Homo sapiens: one gene and its partners. The protein of the gene in region 1 interacts with the protein of each later gene in a biochemical or structural test. Each region holds a gene or a part of one and is shown in the gene's direction. Other genes may lie near its edges.

What was found.
Region 2: of the proteins of PDGFC (region 1) and PLAU, one has a biochemical effect on the other in vitro, tested with the Homo sapiens proteins (one study listed by BioGRID).
Region 3: of the proteins of PDGFC (region 1) and ST14, one has a biochemical effect on the other in vitro, tested with the Homo sapiens proteins (one study listed by BioGRID).
Region 4: of the proteins of PDGFC (region 1) and PLAT, one has a biochemical effect on the other in vitro, tested with the Homo sapiens proteins (one study listed by BioGRID).

The regions. Positions count from the first base shown.
Region 1 is NC_000004.12:156,961,785-156,968,819, reverse strand, and holds part of PDGFC (platelet-derived growth factor C precursor), read left to right. Parts: intron 1-1,074; exon of another isoform or gene 1,075-1,225; coding exon of another isoform or gene 1,226-1,249; intron 1,250-7,035. UniProt on the Homo sapiens protein: Growth factor that plays an essential role in the regulation of embryonic development, cell proliferation, cell migration, survival and chemotaxis. Potent mitogen and chemoattractant for cells of mesenchymal origin.
Region 2 is NC_000010.11:73,914,132-73,918,029, forward strand, and holds the end of PLAU (urokinase-type plasminogen activator isoform 1 preproprotein), read left to right. Parts: intron 1-644; coding exon 645-785; intron 786-1,119; coding exon 1,120-1,268; intron 1,269-1,439; exon of another isoform or gene 1,440-1,490; intron 1,491-2,257; coding exon 2,258-2,434; 3' UTR 2,435-3,363; downstream 3,364-3,898. UniProt on the Homo sapiens protein: Specifically cleaves the zymogen plasminogen to form the active enzyme plasmin.
Region 3 is NC_000011.10:130,197,757-130,204,791, forward strand, and holds part of ST14 (suppressor of tumorigenicity 14 protein), read left to right. Parts: intron 1-84; coding exon 85-189; intron 190-551; coding exon 552-662; intron 663-751; coding exon 752-865; intron 866-1,190; coding exon 1,191-1,313; intron 1,314-2,194; coding exon 2,195-2,381; intron 2,382-7,035. UniProt on the Homo sapiens protein: Exhibits trypsin-like activity as defined by cleavage of synthetic substrates with Arg or Lys as the P1 site. Involved in the terminal differentiation of keratinocytes through prostasin (PRSS8) activation and filaggrin (FLG) processing.
Region 4 is NC_000008.11:42,183,536-42,190,570, reverse strand, and holds part of PLAT (tissue-type plasminogen activator isoform 1 preproprotein), read left to right. Parts: intron 1-1,499; coding exon 1,500-1,637; intron 1,638-2,554; coding exon 2,555-2,665; intron 2,666-2,998; coding exon 2,999-3,173; intron 3,174-5,398; coding exon 5,399-5,490; intron 5,491-7,035. UniProt on the Homo sapiens protein: Converts the abundant, but inactive, zymogen plasminogen to plasmin by hydrolyzing a single Arg-Val bond in plasminogen.

The DNA.
Region 1 (7,035 bases):
TGTTTCCTAATCTGTGGGTAGAGGATTAGGCTATGTTTGGGGGTTGGTCTATGTTAAGGATGGCAGCAGGAAGTAACTAGAAGTAGAGGAACTACTTGTAGTTTTTAGCCCAAGGAGAAGTGGCACTGGCCAGCACTAGGGGGCAATATAGAGCTATTTTCTTGCACATGCTCAGGTTGATTTTTATACGTAAATGTTTCAAGATTTGAGGGTAACAGGTGGGTGCTGAAGAAGATTCCCCTGGAATGTAACCAGATTTGTTAGAGCTACTACCATTACCGTTACTACTACTACTTCTACTTCTTCTTCTTTTTGTCTTTCAAATTTTCCATTATGTGGGTAATCTTTTGCCCACATACTGAATTATGATTGAATTTTGATTGCCCTGTTGCTGTCTCAATTTTGACAGTTGTACAGTCCTGTAAATACGAACCCTCCTTGAGGATACCACGTAGAAGATCCCATTGGCCCAGTTTGTGCATTGCATCGTTTTGTGACAGGTCTTCTCTAACTCTGAAATGTCCAAATTGATATATTATGACTGTAGCAGCTCATTCTTGTCTCCAAGGACCCCTCCTCATGATACTCTCTTTTCTTGAGTATTCTAAAGTCCCTAATGGTGATTACTCAATCAGGTACCTCGGGCTGCTCAGTTTTAATATTAACTTGGTATTTCAAGAGGAGGTAGAATTGGAAATTGATTGCTGTAGCCAATGCTGCATACATGGATTTAGACTGGATCATGTGGACATGGTTCAGAATTAGCTTTGAAGGGTTAGTGTCATTTACACTATTGTTAGGTATCTGGTTTTTGACCTACCATTGGATTGCAATTCTTGCCACTTTTACTGTACAAAGTTTTATCCTCTAATATTATAAGTTGACTTCATATACTATACTTAATTTTTAACCTTACTTCTGACCCTGTCTCACTTATGAAAACAAGAGTCTTCAGATTTAACTTGAGGAAAGAGATTAAAAGATAACATTGACTTGCTTGGAGGGTGTCTGGCCTGTATACTTGTTGTATGACCATGGTGAAAAATACTCATATTTTGTGCACACTGGTTTTAGATGAGAATGCCTATTGTGGAATGATTAAGTTCTGGGACGGTGCTTCTGAGTTGTAGCAGAAAGAATCATACACCCAGGAACAAAACAAAACCTACTTTGTCTGTTGCATACAGCACAAAGAGATGTCAATGACAAAGTTGTTGGTGGAGGAATGCCTCTTCTACCTGTGTTGTTGGTGAGTGATTTTTAGTTTACTCATAGATTAAGAGCATGCGTATCATTTTTTTCTCATTTTCTTTAGCCATTCTGAATTTTGATTTGGAATATGCCGCTCTTCGCTACGGTTGGTCTTATTAACATCAGTTATTGTATGTGTTCTTTTTCTCAAGGGCTTTTGTGGCATGTGGGGCAATTTACTTTGGTCTGCTGGTCGTGCCCTTTTGCCGGTATCTTGTGTTTATGGATTTTCCATCTCTTTTTATCAGTGCCAGCTTTCTCTTCCTACTGTCAATGCTCCTGTATCTAACAAAATTTAAATTAAAAATGGAAAATTAAAAAAGGTGCCCAGTCCCCTCGCCATCATTTTTAGGTGGCAGCTTCAAATCTCTGTTTTATCAAAAACAGATAACCACAATATTTAGAACAGTGTCCAAGAGTAAATAGGCTCTAACTGCAGACTAAAGGGACTTTCCTGTAAGTTTCCCTGTAAGTTTTATTGCGTGACCTTTTTGACATTTATTTTTGTTGTTTAAAGGCTTTTTTACAAAAAAAAAAAAAAAGAAAAAACTTCCTCCTGGTTCTCTGCTGTTTGAAATAGTTGAGGAAGTTGAACAAGTACAGTGCCATTATGTAATGATGAATTTTGTCTTTTCACAGTAGGTGATTAAAAAGCTCTATTATGTGGTAATTTTTCTTCCATATCAATTTTAATCATAGATATTGGATGGATGATATACTTTGCTTTTACCACTGAAAGGTGTTTAGAAAGTACAGAGGTTTGTAGGAAGCCTCAGGGACTAATATATCGTTTGTTAAATAGTTGTAAATAGAGGATGGGATTGGACATTAAACTTCCCTCAGTGCTGCCATCTCTTCTACGACCTCTAGTTCTGTCTCAGGCACGGAAGCCTTAGCTTTGTCTACTTGTATTTCACCCTTCCTGAAACTTATTTCTTAAATATCTTCTGTATATTAGCTTCCACTTCATGTTTTTTTCAAGCTTTAGACTGATAAGGTTCTAAGTTTTATCTATAAACTTTTGCACCCTTTGTGGAAACAAAATTCTAATGATAAAGTGATATGTTGAATAAGTAATAACAAATTAAGACATTCATAAATTTCATAGTAAAAAAAAAAAGTTTCCAAGACTGATGATATTTTCCCCGTAGGTTTCTGTTTGTATCAACCAAAATGGTAGAAGTCATAAAGTCCCTTCATTTACTTACTCTGATTTTCATGTTTCTAATTTGGAAGCATTATACGTAATCAGAATATATAACTCTGTGTAACTCTATGTAATCTCTATATAACTCATTTATTAAGCAATCTCTGTTGCTTCTTGATCTTTTGGGTAAGATCAGTTGTAAACAATCTGTATGTTGTATTATTTTTCACCACCACTGCCTCCAACTATGATTTTATTTTTCAAATCTCCCATTTTTTAAATCTCCTAAGGAGACATCTAATATTTGATAATCATTTAGTATGCACCAGTGTTAGTTCCATACTGATTACCAAAATGTTGAAATGTTGAAATATTTCCAATGAGTTGGGAAGAGACTAGTGCAACTCCTCTAAGACAAATGGACCAACACGTGATGAAGCAGAAATTCCAATGCCTGGTACTGCTTAAGGCCTCTGAGATACTTCTGCAACCCTGCTGGCCTCTGTCCTGATCGATCAGTGTTCCTGCCGTACTGATTGTTAAGCATTTTGACACTTTTAGCTGTGGACAATTTTAGTTCATATTGGGGTTAAAATTTCTATCTTTTTTCCTCTCTGCTTGGCAGCTCAGGCCTGACCCATGACTTGAAGGACCTGGAGTAAGAAGGGGTATGGCTTCTTTCAAGCTCCCTTCCTGCAGCTCTTTTGGCTTTAGCTCCTCAAGGGTTATGGCTGGGGGAGTGATGAGATGGTGGACATGGCACACTCAGCATACAATTGCAACTTCCAGTCATTTGCCCCTGCCTCTCTGGCTAACACTAACCAGCTGCTCTTGCATGGATAACACCTTCCCTTCATCTAGATTAAATGATTCACTTCCTCAGAGAGGTCTTTTTTCTGACCACTAAGTCTAAATTAACCACCCCTCACTGTCTTGTCAAGGTTAATTAATTAATTATGTAGTACTTAATACTCCTTGATATTCTTGTTTATTAATTAATTAATTTATTATCTACCAACATCCCTCACCCCCACCATAAAATCTAAGTTGTTGAGAGCGTGGACCTTGTTTGAATCGCTTCCTGTAGGAACTCCAGCACCTGAGACAGGTATGGCAGAGTGTGCCCGATGAGTATCTGTTGAAAGGTTCTGGAGGTAGTTAGTATCTTATTAAAGAAAGACTATGCTGTTAACTCTAACAACAGGCCATCTTTTAAGATATCTTTTTGGTCTTGGAGCTTGCACACTACTTGACTTCTTAAATAGGAAGATAGCTTGTTCATGTATTGGTAGTGATGGTTGTGCCAATCAGAGTACCACGTTTTACTCTTGATAAAGATTATGTTACCAAGTGAGCAGGTACCAGGCAAATGGATAGGTTTCCTAGAACTGGTTACTCTTTTAAGTGTCATTGCTGTGCATAGCCTTACATTTTCTGAAGATGGGGACTGTCATGTGATGCAGACCAAGGACTCTTGAAAATGTTGCATAGATGACAAGCCTCCAAAATCTGTGTACTTTCTATATTTTACCTGTGGCTCAAGGATAACTTGCACAGGCTAGAACTCAGCAACATGTGTGGTATGAGGAATGTTAGAGTTGGAAAGACCCCAGGAACTTATCCTCACTGATGTGCAGATTGAGGCCTAGAGAGCAGAAGTTGACTTGACTTTGTCAAGGCCACTAGACAGCCACTATTAAACTGCTAATGTGGTGATACATTTTTCCTTATGTGAGAACCAATTAGGAAAATGGAATCCTGGTTTCAAAATTCACATACTTTTTATAAAAGCATTTCTTTATTATGTTAGTGGATTGCATGGTTTTCAGATTGGGAGATGAGGTAAGAATCTGTTGCTTCGGAAATATTTACGGGAACAGTAAGGGAAACAATCTCATAATAATCACATTAGTCAAATGGAATGGTATATATATATCACTATATATATACTGTATATATATGTACTATATATACAGTATATATAGTATCACTATATATATACTGTTATATATATATCACTATATATATATATAGTGATAACTTCTGTTTCTGTAGGCATCTGACAAATTGGCAAATAACTGGAAATACTACCTTTATAATGGTTACCATTATGTTAGAACTGTACTTTAAGCAAGTATATAGATGAAGGATGTTTATTTTAATATTTTGGCTTATTCAGTGATGGTGATGAATAATATGGCTGACATTGGCATGCTTGGTTCCACAAGGAAACTTTCTGGTAATAATTTTAACATTTCATTTAACAGTACATCTCAATGATAAAAGTACCATAAAAATGAATAAATAAGCATGTTTAGTGAACGCTAGAAAGTATAACCTATTATTTTTGAAATATATTCAGTGAGTGACCTTAACTTTTATTTACACTATATTCTATGGGATATTCTATTCAGAAGTTCAAGTTTTTTTTTTTTTTTTTGGTCAAGACCGTCAGAAAATAAATTCATAGCTATAAACTTGAATGGCTTGCCTAAAATATTATTAATTTACCTTTTTAAACTTTGGTTTGCAAAGTTCCCAAATCTGAAAACAAAGGGAGCTAAAAATTATAAAGGGGAACTATAATAACTACGTTTATAATTAAAGCCAAGTTGTTATAAGTGATACTTTTGGTAGCATTCGCTAATTTTGCCTTTTACCTCATGGGAATGCATTTTAAATTTAGTTTTGTTAATTTTATTTGTCATCAGATTTCTCGTTAGAATTCATGTGCCACCTTCAAGCCACTTTTTATCATCCCCTAGTGACTGAGTAGGCTCCTCCCTGGACGGTTATTTGCCCTGTTTCCACACCAGACTATCTTTGCCAGGCTGGCTTCACTAAATTTGCTCTCTTGCTATTCCACTTAATTCCTCTTTTATTTTCAGACTGTGATTTTTTTTTTGTACTTAGCTTTTTCCCTTTTGTATTTGTTTTGTTTTGTTTTATTTTTGAGACATGGTTTCACTGTCACCCAGGCTGGAGTGCAGTGGTATGATCACAGCTCACTGCAGCCTTAACTTCCCCAGGCTCAGGTGATGTTCCCTTTTCAGCCTTCCAAGTAGCTGGGATTACAGGTGTGTGCCACCACTCCCTGCTAATATTTGTATTTATTTTTAGAGATGGGGGTCTTACTATGTTGCCCAGGCTGGTCTTGAACTCCTAGGCTCAAGTGATCCTTCCACCTCGGCCTCCCAATGTGCTGGGATTACAGAGGTGAGCCACTGTGCCCAGCCGGCTTTTTTTCTTTAGACTAGTAGTTGGGTTGTTTCTTAGTCCACTGAGGTATGTATTGGGTTGTTGCTGGGGTTTGTGGGGCAGAGGCAAAGTAGAGGTCTGATTCCTTAAAGGAAATCAACATTCTCAAACAGAACAAGGCATTTTAATGGTAAGTGCAAGGATGTGGATTTACATTTCTACTATATACACTATGTGCTGATAAACCAGCATGATCTGCCAGGAAGGACCTGGGAGCAGCAGGATTTAGATGCATTTTAGAGGGTAGTTGGATGGGTCTAAAGGGCTCTGAGTAAGCTTCTAGTTTTGCATTGCTTAATAATGACTCTCCAGGAGTGACTCTTAGGTGCCACATGTGTCCTCAATGTTTGCAGATAGTATGCAGTGTATAAACTCTCCGTGAGGTATTAGGAAAAACACCAGGGCTTCACTGGCTAAGTAGCTTAGCTAAGGTCCCACAGCTGGTAGATGTTTGGACCTTGGTCTGACTCCAAGCCAGGACTCAGAGCCACGTGCCTCTTCCTTCATAAGTTAAATGGTCTAATGTTTTATTAGAACATTGTTTTCATTCAGCAAATATGTATGAGCATCTGCTCTTTGCTAAGCTTTGCCCTAGGTGCCGCATATGCAGAGAAGAAGATGCAGACCTGCCTTTGAGAAACTCGGTCAGAGGATGGCAGATCCTTCCTTTTACTTCATGGTCTATTAGTTTTGTGCTCAAAGTGCTATGGGAACACAGTGCTTTATTTCACTTCAAAAATCCTCTATTGATTTACTAAGTGGTTGGTTTTGTCTGGAAGGGAAGTTGAAGGAGAAAAGTTCCCACAGAGGAGGTGATGTGTTTTGAAGCGGGTCTGAGAGGGAGAAAAAGAGGGAAGGATCCTAGGCTGAGGGAACAGCCTGAAGAAAAGAATAGAGGCATGAAGAGGCATATATCATGGGCGAGAGACAAGAAGCATCGAGAATGTTGAGAGTGAGGAGAGGCTAGAAAAAGTGGAAAGATGTCCTAGACCTATGCATTCAAAGGCCCTGATGCTGTGTGTACTTCCTGCAGGGTTGACAGTTAACAAACAGAACAAAAAGAAAAGTCTTCATGTCTAAGATTCCATCAAAACCCTTTCTATTCAGTTCCTTTCTCAGCAGGCAGGCAGTGACAGATTTCTGCTTTGGTGTGTGCAGATAACTACTTGTTGCTGGAATGTTTTTCAGTCATCAGGCATGTTTGGAAGTTGTGAACAGGTTAGAAGGGCAGGCTGCGCAGCCTCAGTTCCACTCTCCTGAGCTGAGCCTGTGTCCACACTACTCTATATTGCCTTCTTTATGTAAACAAAGAGCTATTTTCACACTTCATTCACAAAACGGATGGCGTGCAGAATGAGGCTGGGTGAAGGATCCGCAAT
Region 2 (3,898 bases), on another chromosome or scaffold:
AGGGGGAACCCCGCGACTACTGTGGCCATAATGGCTTGGGGAGAGTGGGACCCAGGGAGAGACTGGAGCTGAGGTTGAAGCTGCCCGGTGGGGCAGGGGTGGGGCGAGGGACCTTGAAGCCTCGATATACATGACAAAGGGAGTGGCAGGGAAGAGTTCCATGAAGTCTGAGGGGCCTGGTGCTCCTCTGGAGAGACCCTGAATTTCCCCAACAAGTAGCCTCTTGCGAGTGGAAACAGCCCTGTGGGTATATGGCTTGGGCTGGGAAGGCCCTGTTTATATGAATTAGAAAAAGACACACCTTCCTTTGTGGGATGCAGCCTCTGTCTGTGCTAGGATATAGAACTTGGAGAATGGAGCCTTGGGATGGATTCCAGCCTAACTACCTCAGCTGGGAGTTTTTGCAGAAACGACCTGTACAGCTGTATGCAGTGGCTCTGGCCATCCAAGCCTTTTTCAACACCTGGAACAAAGCCCTTGGGGCATGGGGCAGGGGAGGTTTCCAGGTGATAAGCGACCAGCAGACCTCCCTGGATGACTGACCTAGGGATAGGCATAGCTACTTCCTCGGCACTTGGAGGGGACAGATGGGGACCGCCTAACCAGTAGTGATCTTTCTCCTCTGACCCTCTGTCCTCCCCCAGCCTTGCTGAAGATCCGTTCCAAGGAGGGCAGGTGTGCGCAGCCATCCCGGACTATACAGACCATCTGCCTGCCCTCGATGTATAACGATCCCCAGTTTGGCACAAGCTGTGAGATCACTGGCTTTGGAAAAGAGAATTCTAGTAAGTGACAATTGCGACTGACTTAGAAGGTCCTGAGGAGTGTTTTGACCTGAAAATGAGCCCAGCGTGATCAAGGGAAGACTGCAGAGTTAGAGGTGGGAGCACTGAGGCGGTGGCAGATGGGTCCAGGGATGGATGAAGAGTGTTGTTTAGGGAGCGATGGGCTGCAAAGGTAAATAGATGGTAGGGGCTATAGGTGGAGTAAAGGCTCAGATTTGCATGGAAGAGAATAAGGGCCTTCCCTGGTAGAGATACTTTATGGTTCCCCTCTCTGGCAGACTCCCAGTGGACAGATAAATCTTGATGCAAACGCCTCCCTGTTTTCTCCACCTAGCCGACTATCTCTATCCGGAGCAGCTGAAAATGACTGTTGTGAAGCTGATTTCCCACCGGGAGTGTCAGCAGCCCCACTACTACGGCTCTGAAGTCACCACCAAAATGCTGTGTGCTGCTGACCCACAGTGGAAAACAGATTCCTGCCAGGTGAGTGTTCCAAGCATCTCTCTCCACCTCTTCCATATCTCCCCAGAGCTCCTGGGCTTGTTCCAGCCAGCTTAAGGGTGTCTCTCTCTAGCCAAAGCCCTAAGTAGCCAGAATCAGGAGCTCAGGTCTTTGAGGGTTTAAACCAGTCCTTATGTGTTTGCCAGACATTACCAAAAAAATCCCAGCTCTGCGCTAGTCACTTCAGACTGGGGGCACGAGATCCTAGAAAGAGGAAACAGTAAAAGACAATGTAACTCAGTGCCCAGGGTGTGTTGTGAACTATAAATGATCAGGTGTTCAGGAGAGGGAGGTGAGTGCCAACCTGAGGGTCAGGGAGGGGAGGCTTTAAAGGAAATGTGACTTGATAGGCATTTGAAGAGGCAGAGGGAAGAAAGGAAGGTGTTTCAGTTGAAAGATACAAAACTGAGAAGGAGGCTGGCATATTCCGGGTGGGGAGGAGAACTAGGGTCTGGGAGTGTGGATGGAATAGTGGCAGATGACAGGGCTTTTAAAGCCAAGCAGGGGATTTTAAACTTGATGTGGTAGAAAATGGGGCTGCGTCAGGCACAGTGGCTCATGCCTGTAATCCCAGCACTTTGGGAGGCCGAGGTGGATGGATCACTTGAGGCCAGGAGTTTGAGACCGGCCTGGCCAACATGGTGAAACCCTGTGTCTACTAAAAATGCAAAAAAAAATTAGCCAGGTGTGGTGGTGCCTGCCTGTAATCCCAGCTAATCAGGAGGCTGAGACATGGGAATCGCTTGAGCACAGGAGGCAAGTTTGCAGTGAGCTGAGATCACGTCATTGCACGCCAGCCTGGGCGACAGAGCGAGATTCTGTCCTCCCCCCGAAAAAAAGAAAGAAAATGGGAAGTCGCTAAGGACTTTGACTGGGAAACTCTTCCCTCTCTCTGGTATGGTTGGGTGATGGGATCAGAAATCCCCTCCTCACTTCTCTAGGGCTCATCTTTTGTATCTTTGGCGTCACAGGGAGACTCAGGGGGACCCCTCGTCTGTTCCCTCCAAGGCCGCATGACTTTGACTGGAATTGTGAGCTGGGGCCGTGGATGTGCCCTGAAGGACAAGCCAGGCGTCTACACGAGAGTCTCACACTTCTTACCCTGGATCCGCAGTCACACCAAGGAAGAGAATGGCCTGGCCCTCTGAGGGTCCCCAGGGAGGAAACGGGCACCACCCGCTTTCTTGCTGGTTGTCATTTTTGCAGTAGAGTCATCTCCATCAGCTGTAAGAAGAGACTGGGAAGATAGGCTCTGCACAGATGGATTTGCCTGTGCCACCCACCAGGGCGAACGACAATAGCTTTACCCTCAGGCATAGGCCTGGGTGCTGGCTGCCCAGACCCCTCTGGCCAGGATGGAGGGGTGGTCCTGACTCAACATGTTACTGACCAGCAACTTGTCTTTTTCTGGACTGAAGCCTGCAGGAGTTAAAAAGGGCAGGGCATCTCCTGTGCATGGGTGAAGGGAGAGCCAGCTCCCCCGACGGTGGGCATTTGTGAGGCCCATGGTTGAGAAATGAATAATTTCCCAATTAGGAAGTGTAACAGCTGAGGTCTCTTGAGGGAGCTTAGCCAATGTGGGAGCAGCGGTTTGGGGAGCAGAGACACTAACGACTTCAGGGCAGGGCTCTGATATTCCATGAATGTATCAGGAAATATATATGTGTGTGTATGTTTGCACACTTGTGTGTGGGCTGTGAGTGTAAGTGTGAGTAAGAGCTGGTGTCTGATTGTTAAGTCTAAATATTTCCTTAAACTGTGTGGACTGTGATGCCACACAGAGTGGTCTTTCTGGAGAGGTTATAGGTCACTCCTGGGGCCTCTTGGGTCCCCCACGTGACAGTGCCTGGGAATGTATTATTCTGCAGCATGACCTGTGACCAGCACTGTCTCAGTTTCACTTTCACATAGATGTCCCTTTCTTGGCCAGTTATCCCTTCCTTTTAGCCTAGTTCATCCAATCCTCACTGGGTGGGGTGAGGACCACTCCTGTACACTGAATATTTATATTTCACTATTTTTATTTATATTTTTGTAATTTTAAATAAAAGTGATCAATAAAATGTGATTTTTCTGATGACAAATCTCCCTGGTGCTTGTATGGGAAGGAGTTGGAGTACATAAAAAGGAGAAAATAACAAAGGTGGACTGCACCCTAGAGTTTCTTATGGGACTGCATCTCTGGACTTAATGGAGCTTTGGGAGGTAGAGGTTAGGAGAGCTGTAGGGCAGGGCCACCACAGCACTTAATGTATACAAAGTTTCCCCAAACCACAATCCCATGGCTGTGTAAGTAGTGTACAGGCTTAGTGTCAGCTCCCAATTGCCTCCTTAACCTGATGCCTTTGTGCAGTGCACATCTTGTACAGCTGTACATGGTGGTCTTCTTTAGGGTTAACTCCACAACAGTCTCTTCACTCTGCCCCCAACAATCCTTGAGCTGACCTCAACCAAGAAGAACACCTGTGGCCAGGTGTAGTGGCTCATGCCTGTAATCCTAACATTTTGAGAGGCTGAGGTGGGAGAATCGCTTGAGCCCAGGAGTTTGAGACCAGCCTGGGAAACTTAGTGAGACCCTGTCTCTGCAAAAAATAAAAAAATTAGCCAGGTGT
Region 3 (7,035 bases), on another chromosome or scaffold:
GAGGTTGGCCCGAGGGAGGGAGCCGGGAGCCAGCGGAGGGAGGTGGGTGGGTGCTGGGGGCCTCAGGCCTGCCTGTGCCCGCAGCATGCCCGGGGCAGTTCACGTGCCGCACGGGGCGGTGTATCCGGAAGGAGCTGCGCTGTGATGGCTGGGCCGACTGCACCGACCACAGCGATGAGCTCAACTGCAGTGAGTCAGGCTGGGAGCCCCGGTCTCCCCACCCTCCTTCCCCACCCTGCCCGCGTCCCATGGCCCTGCTGGCTGACTGCCGAGGCAGAAAGGCCGGAGGTGGTGGGAGTTTTTGCTCTCGGCCCTGTGTAGAGACCTCTGGCCCCACTCCCCACCCTGCCATATGGAGATCTTGGCCTGTGGGGCAGGTGGTGGGGTATCTCGGAAGTGCTGAGGTCAGCTTGGTAGCTGGTGGAGCAGGGCCCCTTGGGCCTCTCTGTAGATCAGAAAGCGGTCCCCAGGTAGCTCTGATCGCCTGGGCATCCTGGGGAAGCAGTGAGTGATGAGGGCCTCACGGCCGACCTCCCCTTACCCCACTCCAGGTTGCGACGCCGGCCACCAGTTCACGTGCAAGAACAAGTTCTGCAAGCCCCTCTTCTGGGTCTGCGACAGTGTGAACGACTGCGGAGACAACAGCGACGAGCAGGGGTGCAGTGAGTGCTGGGGAGGGGCTGCCTGGGCGGGCAGGTGGGCGGGGCGACTGACGGTGGCTCCTGGTGGCTGAGTCCTGGTGCCTCTCCAGGTTGTCCGGCCCAGACCTTCAGGTGTTCCAATGGGAAGTGCCTCTCGAAAAGCCAGCAGTGCAATGGGAAGGACGACTGTGGGGACGGGTCCGACGAGGCCTCCTGCCCCAAGGGTGAGGCCCGCCCCACCCATCTTCCTGTTGGGGGCCTCGCCCCTGGAGGAGGCTGCCCTGAGCACACGCACATGCAGGACGCCCCGAGTTTAATGAACACAAACCACCTGTGTGTTAAGTGTGATGAGAAAGGGCTCTGGTTGGGGGAGAATTTTCCAGAAGGTGGAGAACCTGTAGCAGGGCAGGGAGGCCAGTGGGCGTGGGTGGGGCAGGCCTGGGTGAGGGGGTAATGTGCAGGGGCCATGAGGCGCCATTGGTGGTTTCTGGCTTCTGGTCGGATGCTGCAGAGGAATTGAGCCCCTCCCTTGTCCTCCTCCTTGAACAGTGAACGTCGTCACTTGTACCAAACACACCTACCGCTGCCTCAATGGGCTCTGCTTGAGCAAGGGCAACCCTGAGTGTGACGGGAAGGAGGACTGTAGCGACGGCTCAGATGAGAAGGACTGCGGTGAGCAGGGCATCCGAGTACGGTTGTGCAGGTTGTTCACTGTGTGAAGTGCCCACCAGAGGGTGCACCTGGAGGTGCAATCCCGCCAGCACCTCACTTAGCAGCTCTGTGCTTGGGTGAGAGGGTGTGTCTCCTGGAGGAAAGGATAGCCTTGCCAGTTGGCATGAAGGCACCACCCCACGGGCTGGCTCTGGTCTTGGAGAAAGGCCCGTACGGCCAGCATCTCAGCGCCTCTGTAGCATGGCGGGGTCGTGGCTGCAGTGCGTTGCTGGCCCCTGCTGTGTAGACACAGCTGTGGAGCAGTAGCCTGGAGAAGAGCGGCCCAGCTCACCCAAGCCCAAGGCAGGGTGTCACCCCTGCCTGCCCATACTTTAATCTGCAGCCTCTGTGTTTCAGAAGCGTTGGCTGGCCACAGGTTAGATTTGAGCACAGCTCCAGCGTTCTGTGACCTCACATCAGCGGTTCATTCGTCCCTCTCAGAGCTGTGGCCTTCAGCATTCAAAGGCGCTTCTCCCTGCTCCATGCTGCCCCCTCCCCTGTGATGTCCCAAATGATGTCAAGTCAGGCAGATGACACCCAAATCAAAGTGAAGCTGACCAGCCAGCCTCCGGAGGCCCTCGCTGCATTTGTGAGGGAGGGGGAGGTGGGAAGATGAGGGTTTGAATTTGGGAGCGGGGAGAAGGAGGGGCATGGTGGAAGGGAGTCTGTGAAGCTCAAAGATAGTTTTGGGGGTCCCTCACGCCCTGGCCACGCCAGCAGTGCTGTGCACGCCAAAAGCTGGCTTCCCCACACAGGGTCTCCTGGCACACACTGCATGTCCCCTTGTGGTTTGATGTCCCCACCTTGACTTGCTGTCCTCTGGTTCTCTGCTCCCTCTGCAGACTGTGGGCTGCGGTCATTCACGAGACAGGCTCGTGTTGTTGGGGGCACGGATGCGGATGAGGGCGAGTGGCCCTGGCAGGTAAGCCTGCATGCTCTGGGCCAGGGCCACATCTGCGGTGCTTCCCTCATCTCTCCCAACTGGCTGGTCTCTGCCGCACACTGCTACATCGATGACAGAGGATTCAGGTGGGTCTCTGGGTGGGCAGCAGGGAGCCTCCTTGCTGGCCCTTTGCATCTGGGAGTAATGCCAGGATAGGTTGGCACCGAGGCAGGGCACTGGAGGGGTGGCCACATGTGTTAGTCCATTCTTGAGTTGCTCTAAAGAAATACCTGAGACTGGGTCATTTATAAAGAAAAGAGTTTATTTGGCCCATGGTTCTGCAGGCTGTATAGGAAGCGTGGTGCCAGCCTCTGCTTCTGGTGAGGGCCTCAGGGAGCTTCCATCCATGGCAGAAGGTGAAGGGGGAGAAGGCACATCACATGGCGAGAACAGGAGCAAGAGAGAGCAGGAGGAGGTCCTAGACTCTTAAGCAGCCAGCCTCGTGTGAACTCAGAACTCACCCATCACCATGGGAAGGGCACCAAAACATTCATGAGGGAACCGTGACCAAAACACCTCCTACCACGCCCCACCTCCAACACTGGGGATCCCATTTCAACATGAGATTTGGAGGGGACAAGCATCCAAACCAAATGAGCAGATATCCCAGGACGGGGCTCAATAACAGTAATAATAAAAACTCACTGTATTCGGTGCCCACTTGCAGCCAAGTGCTGTCTCTGTGCCTCTCCTAAAACCCCCTAGCAAGTTAGGCAGCTTGATTGTATCCTCACTACAGAAAGTAAGGTTCAGAGAAGTAGGGACGTTTGCTTGGGGTGGCACAGCTGTTAAGTGGCAGAGCCAGACTTGAGCACAGGTGTGGTCTCCGGTGAGTCTGCACTGTGCAACTCCTCGGATTGGCCAACGTGAGCTTTGGATTCATGCTCCAGCTCTGGCTTGCCGGTGGCCCTGGGCAGGTTATTCAAACTTCCTAGGCCTTGGGTTCTTCACCAATGATAGTGACAGTATCAGCTCCCACCCTTAGAGTTGTGAGAATTAAATACAATGCTGTACTTGAGACACTTTGCGCTGTGCCTGGCACATAGTAGGTGCTCAGCATGTCATGGCCTCAGACACACAGACAGATGAGAGGCCTGGAAGGGTCACATGGGCATCCCAGGAACAGGGGCACAATGCCGGGCTGCGCTATTTGTGTCTTAGCTCCTGGCCTCTCTGGGCGTCTGGCTGTTGGCTGAAGGAAGGAGTGTTAGGGCCTGGCTTGCCCTGAAGAGGCAGGCACAGGGGCATGGGCCTTCCAGGAGAATCCAACCTCGGAAGAAGGGGATGCGCTTTCTGCTGGCTGCACGCTTTTCCATGGTAGGCAGCTCCAGGAGCAGGTGACCCAAGCCCTCAGCTGCCCTTTGCAGGGAGGAGAGATGGGCCCACAGCAGGAGGGAGGCCTGAGGCACAGATGGAGTGTGCTCAGACCCATGCACAGGGCTTGGGTGATGGAGATGGACAGCAAGAGCCTGTGGGGAGTGGACCCAGTTCCATGGTCCCCAGCTTCGCTGGGTGCTTGACACGTGGCTTTGTCCAGCCTGAGGCTGTCCCTTGTCTCACTGTGTCACCCAGGCTGAAGTTCAGTGGTGCAAATCATAGCTTGCTACAGTCTTGAACTCCTGGGCTTGAGCAATCCTCCTGCTTCAGCCTCCTGAGTAGCTGGGACTACAGGCACATGCCACCATGCCCAGCTAGTTTAAAATTTTTGTAGAGACAGAGCCTTGCTAAGTTGCTAAGCTTGGCCTCCACCTCCTAGGCTGAAGTGATCCTCCCATCTTGGCCTCCCAAAGTGCTGGCATTACAGATGTGAGCCACCATGCCTGGCCCAACCACTTCTCTTTGAGGTTGGCTTTTGTGCCTCTTTGATATGCCCCATTCTTTCCTTTTTTGAGCCATGTCCTTGCTTTCTGGCACTACCAGGTACAATAGGCTCATCTTATGTTTCCCCAGCCCAGCCCTAGGACCAGCCATTTCTCCAAGGAGTCCTTTACTGGGAATGGTATTTAGAGACCAAGGTCCGGTTGCTTAGTGTGTTCATTGTCACCATGGTGTCATGTCCAGGCCCAGTTAGCAGGTAGAGCTAGGAAATGGCTGGGTGCATACTAAGAACTGCCCTGCCATCCTGCACTGCTTCCTCTTTTCCTTTGCTTCGTTGCTTTCTTTCTCATTTCCTTCTCCTTCATCGTGTGTTGATCATCAGTCATGCTTCTGCCAACGAGTAGTGCAATTAATCTTCAACACCCCTGGTTACTATTGACACTAGAGAGACCAACATGAATAGGACTTGGTCCCTGCAGATTGTGGGTCACAGACTTGTAAGGGTAGGGACAAGACATGACACACATGTGCAGTAAGTGCTGTGGCAGGGCTGTGTCCAGGCTCCCTTGGGCCCAGCATGTGGAGTTTAGAATTCTAAACCCATATGCCTGAGGGACTCGGGGGGTGACTGTTGGGAACACTCAACATGGGTGTCTGAACTGAGGGTTGAAGGTGAGGGTGTCTGTCAGCTGGACCAGGTGGCTCAGACCTTCCAGACAAAGGGAGTGTCGTGTGCAGAGGCAGGGAGGTGTGAGATGTGCAGGGGCATGGTGTCAAGGGACCCTGAGCACATGGCTAAGTCATCATGCATTCATTGGGCACTGCCGGGAGGCGGCATCACGTTGCGGTTAAATGCACAGGCTGCCTAGGTTGCAGTTGTGGTCTACAGCGTGTTAGCTATATGATCTTCGGCAAGTTGCCCTCTCTGTGCTTGAGTCCTCATCTTAAAAAGCGCGACCCTACCTCACAGGACTGTTTCAGGGATAAAACAACTTACTGTGTCAGCATCGAGAATTGTGCTTGGGACATCAGAAGTTCTACCTGAGCACTAGCGATTCCCAACTGCACTCCAGCCCCTGGGGTCACCATGGGGGATATCAGTGGCTGCATCTTCACAATCAGTCTCTCAGCTGCTGGTAGACGTGCATGCCTTAAACGTTAGAGGCTGAGTCTGCTGATAGAATCAAATACTGTCAGACTTACCGATTGGCTGGGTTTGCAGACAGGGCTTCATGAAAGCGGGGTCTTGAGCTGAGGTCGCCAGGTGAACAGGGCGGGCTTGGAGGAGGGAGGTGGAAACCCGCAGGCACAGGGCAAAGAGCTGGATGGGGGTGTCCATGCTGAGTGTTGGGGTCACGGGGAATTGAGCTAGAGGGACAAGGATGGCTCTCCCCTCTCCCCCGTCCCATGAGACCCTTTCAGCTACATGCTCGCCTCCTGGGTGTTCCTGAAACATCTCTACTCTCTTCTATCTGCACTGCCACCACCTTGCTCGTCCTAGCTCACTGTAGCCTGGGCAGCTGCAGCACCCTCCCCATCTACTTCCTTCCCTCTCAGGACTCTGGTCTGCACCACTCGAGCCCAGAGGGGCCTTCCCCAAATCTGATCACCCCAATCTCTTGCTTCAGCGCCTGCCACGGCTTGCAGTATAAAGCAGGAACTCCTTCACGACCGACACGGCCACGTTATCTGGCCCCTGCCCGTCCGTGCAGTCTCAGTCTCCAGTGCAGTCCTCATGCCTTCCCCATGCTCAGTGTGAGGGTTTCCTAAATGTGCCTTTGCTCTTTTTTCTTTTTTTTTGAGACCGAGTTTCACTTTTGTTGCCCAGGCTGGAGTGCAATGGCGCGATCTCAGCTCACTGCAACCTCCGCCTCCCGGGTTCAAGCAATTCTCCTGCCTCACCCTCCCGAGTAGCTGGAATTACAGGCATGCGCCACCGTGCCCGGCTAATTTTTTGTACTTTTAGTAGAAACGGGGTTTCACCATGTTAGCCAGGCTGGTCTTGAACTCCTGACCACGGGTGATCTGCCTGCCTTGGCCTCCCAAAGTGCTGGGATTATAAGGTGTGAGCCACCACGCCCGGCCACCTTTGTTCTCTTTAAACATGCGGCATTCTCCACCCCTTCAGGCCATAGGTGGCCAGGCCTACGTGATGTCGAGGCTTGGTTCATAACTCACTTCGTTTCCGGACTCCCAGCCCATCCTCTCCCACAGCTTTCTACCCAGTCCTCTGTGGGACCCTTCTTGTCACGCTGTAATTGGTGGTTTTCATATCTCTCCACATGTACACTGTGAACCTGAAGGCTGGGTCATAGATCGCATCACAGATGCCCAGAGATTGTTGAGTGAATGAGTTGATGGGGGTTGAGTACGTGGCTGGATGTGAGCAGGCTGGGAAACTGTTAGAAAGGTCAGGTCGATTAACAGTGAACGCAGAAGGCCTGGGTGGGTCACAAGACCTCACCTGGCAACTCTTGGGAATTCTTTTAGGCTGTGGAATGGGACGCAAAGGATCTCACAAAAACAGCTTTTGGGAAGTCATTTTCTGGTGGCAACAGATTACAGTGAAGCGAGATTGGGCATAGCCTAGGTTGGAAAACTGAGCTTTGGCCTTGGCGTGCGATTCCGTGGGGAGGTGGCTGTAAGAAAGGCCAGAAGGGGGCCTGGCGCGGTGGCTCATGCCTATAATCCCAGCACTTTGGGAAGCCGAAGCAGGCAGATCACCTGAGGTCAGGAGTTCGAGACCAGCCTGACCAACATGGTGAAACCCCATTTCTACTAAAAATACAAAAATTAGCTGAGCATGGTGGCATGCACCTGCACTCCCAGCTACTTGGGGGCGGCTGAGGTGGGAGGATCGCTTGAGTCTGGGAGGCGGAGGTTGTGGTGAGCCAAGATCATGCCACTACACTCCAGCCTAGG
Region 4 (7,035 bases), on another chromosome or scaffold:
ATCCTGGCCTCAGTGACCTCAGAAGCAGCAAGGGTCTGACTTACAGTGGGCACGTGCTACTTCTTTAATTAATTGAAAGTAAAGTTGTTGTTTTTTAAGTTGGCATTCTGGCTTGAAAACAGAAAGATGGCATGAAAATATTAATGGGAGTACTTCAACTATTTTCATTATGCCAAAAATACTTGGAGAAGTAGCACATTTTCTGCAAAGTCTAAAATGTCAATTTTCTTTGGGGCCAAAAATGCATCATTTCTGTGTGGTAATACTTATGTGGATAAAAAACTCTGGTAGACAGTTATGCATATATATATTTTTTGGTGAATTACAATGAGAAAAAGTCCAGGTGCAATGGCTCACATCTGTAACTCCAGCACTTTAGGAGGCGGATCCAGGAGGATGGCTTTAGCCCAGGAGTTCAAGACCAGCATGGGCAACATAGTGAGACACCTCTGCCTCCCCCACCCCACCCCGCCTCTACAAAAAAATTTAAAAATTAGCTGGGTGTGGTGGTGTGCACCTGTAGTCCCAGCTACTTGGGAGGTTGACGCAGGAGGACTGCTTGAGCCTGGGAGGCAGAGGTTGCAGTGAGCCAAGACAGCACCATTGGACTCCAGCCTGGGTGACAGAGACCCTCGAAAAAAAAAAAGAAAAAGAAAAGAAAAGAAAAAATTAGGCTGGGCACGGTGGCTCATGCCTGTAACCCCAGCACTTTGGGAGACCGAGGTGGGTGGATCACTTGAGATCAGGAGTTCGAGACCAGCCTGTCCAATATGGTGAAACCCCGTCCCTACCAAAAATACAAAAATTAGCCGGGCATGGTATCGGGCACCTGTAATCCCAGCTACTCGGGAGGCTGAGGCAGGAGAATCACTTGAACCCAGGAGGTGGAGGTTGCAGTGAGCCGAGATTGTGCCACTTCACTCCAGCCTGGGCGACAGAGTGAGACTTTGTTTCAAAAATAATAATAATAAATAAATAATAAATAAATAAATCATATGAGAAGATACTCAATGGCACTCAGAAAAGAAATGCAAATTTATTTTATTTTATTTTGAGATGGAGTCTTGCTCTGTCGCCCAGGCTGGAGTGCAGTGGTACAATCTCGGCTCACTGCAACCCCCACTTCCTGGGTTCAAGCAATACTCCTGCCTCAGCCTCCTGAGTAGCTGGGATTACAGGCACCTGCCACCATGCCTGGCTCATTTTTGTATTTTTAGTAGAGATAGGGTTTCACCATGTTGGCCAGGCTGGTCTCGAACTCCTGAGCTCAAGTGATTCACCCACCTCGGCCACCCAAAGTGCTGGGATTACCAGCATCAGTCACCGTGTTTGGCCAGTATTCATTATCTTGTTGTCTTCCAGTTGTGTCTCTTCAATAAGGGAGTATGCAATGGAGTCTATAGAAAGCAAGTGAGGGAGTTTTCTCAGTAGGTGCAAGGGTAGTGAGGCATTTCATTTTGAGTCATACTCTGATGAGGCTGGCCTGTCTTTTCTCATAGTGATCTGCAGAGATGAAAAAACGCAGATGATATACCAGCAACATCAGTCATGGCTGCGCCCTGTGCTCAGAAGCAACCGGGTGGAATATTGCTGGTGCAACAGTGGCAGGGCACAGTGCCACTCAGTGCCTGTCAAAAGTATGTACTGAGGCTGGGAGGTGGTGCATGCCTGTGATCCCAGCACTTTAGGAGGCCAAGGTGGGAGGGTCGCTGGAGCCCGGGAGTTCAAGACCAATCTGGGCAAACATAGCAAGTCCCCTGTCTCTACAAAAAATAAAAAAATTAGCCAGACCTGGTATGTAGTCCCAACTACTTGGGAGGTTGAGGCAGAAGGATCACTTGAGCCCAGGAGTTGGAGGCTGCAGTAATCTACGATTGTGCCACTGCATTTCAACCTCAGTGACAGGGCAAGCCCTCACCTCTAAAACAAAACAAAACAACACAAACAAAAACAAAAACACAGAAAAGCCCAGTACAAATCGACTTCAAACTGAGACTTCGAGTTCAGGGGTCCAGTCATGAACCCTGTCTTTCATGGTCCCCGGAAAGTTCAAATCTTCAAAAGGAGCCTCCAGGCCTGTTCGGCCTTAGGCGGAGGTGAAGGTACAAGCAGAAAAGGGAGCAAGACCAAGTGACCTTGGGCAAATGCCCGCTTGCCTCAGTTTCCTCATCTATAAAGAGGTGGGAATAACAGTACACACTTCATGGTTTGCTGTGAGGATTAAATTAGCTAATTTTTGTAGACTGTACAACAGCGCCTGGCACATAGAGCACATTCTTAATATTTTAACTCACATCATCCTTGGAGCTGCTTTGAAAATACAGGGGACCCTTGAACAACACTTGTCTGACCTGCAGGGTCCACTTATGTATGGATTTTTTTCAACCAAAGGCAGGATGAAAACAGTATTTGTAGGATGCAGAACTGGTATACGCGTGTTCCACGCTGCAGGACTTGAGTGTGTGTGGATTGTGGTAGACAGGGCTCCTGGAACCATGGCCTGAGCACACAGAAGGAGGCTGTCATTAGGGGCTTCCTTTTTTATACTTGACAGGTTGCAGCGAGCCAAGGTGTTTCAACGGGGGCACCTGCCAGCAGGCCCTGTACTTCTCAGATTTCGTGTGCCAGTGCCCCGAAGGATTTGCTGGGAAGTGCTGTGAAATAGGTGAGTAGGTGAGAGCACGTGAAACGAGCTGAAATCCCACCTCTCCAGTCTCCCCCGCCCCCGGAAGGAAAGGCAGGGTGCGATGGCAGGGCCAGGGGTGGGGGCCAGGGACAGGGAAGGCGCTTCTGCCATGGGTCAGGAAGCACAGTGCCACACAGCAAGCAGAGCCTAGGTGTGACCCTGAATCCAGGCTGGCACCCTTGCCACCCAGCCTGTGGCTTCCGAGCCAGCCTGCATCAGGCCTGGGGGAGGACGGGGCAGAGAGGGGAGCCTCCTGAGGGCTGAATGAAAGGGGACTCCCATGTGAGGCATCCATGCCCTGCTCTCTGTCAGATACCAGGGCCACGTGCTACGAGGACCAGGGCATCAGCTACAGGGGCACGTGGAGCACAGCGGAGAGTGGCGCCGAGTGCACCAACTGGAACAGCAGCGCGTTGGCCCAGAAGCCCTACAGCGGGCGGAGGCCAGACGCCATCAGGCTGGGCCTGGGGAACCACAACTACTGCAGGTGAGGGCACATCCCCAAGGAGGGATTCCCCCTGTGAGAAGCTGCTACAGCTGGGGAAAGATTCTGTCAGATCCGTCAGGGTTCTCCCAAGAAACATAACCAATACAGGATGGATAGATGGATAGATGATAGACAGATAATAGATGATAGGTGATAGATGATAGATTGATAGATGATAGATGATAGGTGATAGATTAGATAAATAGATGATACATACATGATAGATAGATGATAAATAGACGGTAGATGGATGACAGATAGACAGATGATAGGTGATAGATAGATGATAGATTGATAGATGATTGATAGATAAATAGATGATAGATACATAGATGATAGATGGTAGATAGATGATAGATGGATAGATGATAGATGATAGGTGGTAGATGATAGACAGATGATTAGAAAGATAGATGATAGATACATAGATGATAGACACATAGATGATAGACAGATTGACAGATGATAGATGATTGATAGATGATTAAATAGATGATACATAGATGATAATGATAAATAGATGATAGATGATAGATGATAGGTGATAGATAGATTGATAGATGATAGAAGATTGATAGATGATAGATACATAGGTGATAGTAGATGTAAGATGATAGATGATAGATAGATAGATGATAGACAGATTGATAGATGATAGAGAGATAGAGATAGAGAAAGAGGAGAGAGAAATAGAGAGAGAGAGAGAATGTGTGTGAACCCAAAGTATCTGAGACAGGTCTCAATCGATTTAGAAAGTTGATTTTGCCAAGGTTAAGGACACCCCCGTGACACAGCCTCAGGAGGTCCTGAGGACATGTGCCCAAGGTTGTCAGGGCACAGCTTGCCTTTAGACGTTTTAGGGAGTCATGAGACATCAATCAACATGTGTGAGATGTACATCGGTTTGGTCGGGAAAGTTGGGATAACTCGAAGCAAGGGCTTCCAGGCCATAGGTAGATAAGAGACAAAAGGCTGTATTCTGAGTCCTTGATCAGCTTTTCACTGAACACACAATTGAGTCTGGCTCAGTTCATCTGCATTTTTACATAAAAAATAGGGCAGAGGAAGCAATCAGATACGCATTTGTCTCAGATGAGCAGAGGGATGATTTTCTGTCCTGCACCTGGGAAGATAAGCTATCCATTTACAATGCCAAGGTGAAAGTCAACAGAACTGTTTTAGGGTAAAGATCTTTAGGCCTGCAAGGAATGTCCTTGTAGAGAATTAAAAAAAAAAAAAAAAAACTTTGCAGCTATCTTATTGAGGAATAAATGAGAGGCAGGTTTGCCTGACGTAGTTCCCGGCTTGACATTTCCCTTGGCTCATGACGTTGGGGTCCTGAGATTTATTTTCCTTTCACACTAGATAGATAGACATTTATGTTAAGGAACTGGCTGACAGGATCGTGGGGGCTGGCAAGTCCGAAACATCTTGGTAAGCCAGGCTGGAAGTGCAGGCAGAAGCTGAGGCTGCTCTCTTAAGGCAGAATTTCTTATTCAGGAAACCTCATATTTGCTCTTAAGGCCTTTAAGTGATTGGACGAGGCCCAACTACATTATCTAGGACAATTTCCTTTTCTAAAGTCAACTGGCTGTAGATATTAACCACATCTATAAAACACTTTCACAACTCCTAGATGAATGTTTGGTTAACTGACTGGGTGCCACAGCCTGGCCAAGTTGACATATAAGACTATTCCAGTCCACACCTTGTCAATTTGGCACCCATGTGCATCTCCTTAAACCATCCTTCACCTCCAAGTAAACACAGGAACAAAATCATACTCCTGCCTAACATGATAGAACTACCAGTGTACAACCAAAAACGCACTCCCGGCTGGGCGTGGTGGCTCACGCCTGTAATCCCAGCACTTTGGGAAGCCAAGGCAGGTGGATCACCTGAGGTCAGGAGTTCAAGACCAGCCTGGCCAACATGGTGAAACCCTGTCTCTACTAAAAATACAAAAATTAGCCAGGCATGGTGGCAGGCACCTGTAATCCCAGCTACTCGGGAAGCTGAGGCTGAAGAATTGCCCAAATCCAGGAAACGGAGGTTGCAGTGAGAGGAGATGCGCCGCTGCACTCCAGCCTGGGATAAACAGCGAGACTCTGTCAAAAAAAAAAGCACCCCCCATTCCTCCAGAAAAGGATACCAAAGTCCTTGGGTCCTAAAGGAGAGGCTTCACCTTTGACCTACCCTGGCCCTTCCCTTGGCTGATTTTTCAGAAACCCAGATCGAGACTCAAAGCCCTGGTGCTACGTCTTTAAGGCGGGGAAGTACAGCTCAGAGTTCTGCAGCACCCCTGCCTGCTCTGAGGGTAAGTGGCAGCCACCCCGCCTTTCCCTGAATGTCCCTGGGGGAGGAAAGTCCAGGAGGACAGGCCGATAGCCCTCCTGCACCTGAGGGGAGAAAGGGGGAGGCCAGGAGTGAGTCATTTTGGTTGCAGAGGGAAGAAAGACAGGACTTAGGTCTGTGCCTGGGCTTGGCCTCTGACTGGCTATTTGTCTGACCTGGAGCTGATCTCCTCACACTCTGACCCTCAATTTCCTCCTCTATGGAGGAGAGGATGGGGCTGAATCAGTGGTTTTCAGTCCTTTTGAGAATGAATGGAGATTCTCCCTTTTTTGATTAATGGGTGAATGGGGCTTTGTCTCTCTTTCGCTCCCTCTCAAACTTTTTAATGCAAAAAAAAAAAAAAAAAAACTTCCAAGATTGAAAAAATATATATTAAGTTACAAGACCAGGCACAGTGGCTTATGCCTATAAACCCAGCACTCTGGGAGGCTGAGGCGGGCGGCTCACCTGAGGTCAGGAGTTTGAGACCAGCCTGGCCAACATGGTGAAACCCTGTCTCTACTAAAAATACAAAAATTAGCCGGATACGGTGGCAGGCACCTGTAATCCCAGCTACTCAGGAGGCTGAGGCAGGAGAATTGCTTGAACCTGGGAGATGGAGGTTGCAGTGAGCCGAGATCATGCCACTGCACTCCAGCCTGGGTGATAGAACAAAAAACTGTTTCAAAAAAAAGAAAAAAATGAAATGCTAAGTTACAGAAAGGTACTATGAATTCAGTGGTGCTTATACAAATCATTACGTTACTTATCACATTTATCACAGCACTATGAAAGATTTTTTTTAAGTTCTAAATATATATAGGGCCAGGTGCAGTGGCTCGTGTCTATAATCCCAGCACTTTGGGAGGCTGAGGCGGGAGAACTGCTTGAGCCCAGGAGTTTGAGACCAGCCTGGGCAACAAAGTGAGACTCCATCTCTACAAAAAATACAAAAATTAGTCAGGTGTGGTGGCTTGTGCCTATGGTCCCAGCTGCTTGGGAGGCTCAGGTGGGAGGATCGCTTGAGCCCAGGAGGTTGAGGCCACAGTGAGCAATGATTGTGCCACTGCACTCCAGCCTGGGTGACAGTGAGATCCTGCCTCAAAATAAATACATAAATATGTGTGTGGGTGTGTGTATATATATATGTAATACACATATATTAAATTTATATATGATATATATAAACACGCACCAGCTATATGCATTCAGCACCCAGGTCCACGGGTGATGCCTGTGACTCTGAAGACTTTACAGTCACTCTACAATATCCTCCCCATCCCCCATGGTCTGGTCTAAATGAGGACTCGCAGATCTAGATAATCTTGAAAATCCCTTCCATTTATGGTATTTATGTATAGAGGTATGCTTTGTCAGTTTCAGGTCGGGAGAAAAAAATGGAAAAATGGGGGAAATAAATGAAAACAGGCAGCACTCCACGGCTCATACCCTCCTCCTTCCCAAGCCCATCATCAGATCCTCAGGACACTGGCAGACACAGTCCGAGAAATAACCCCCACCCCAGCCC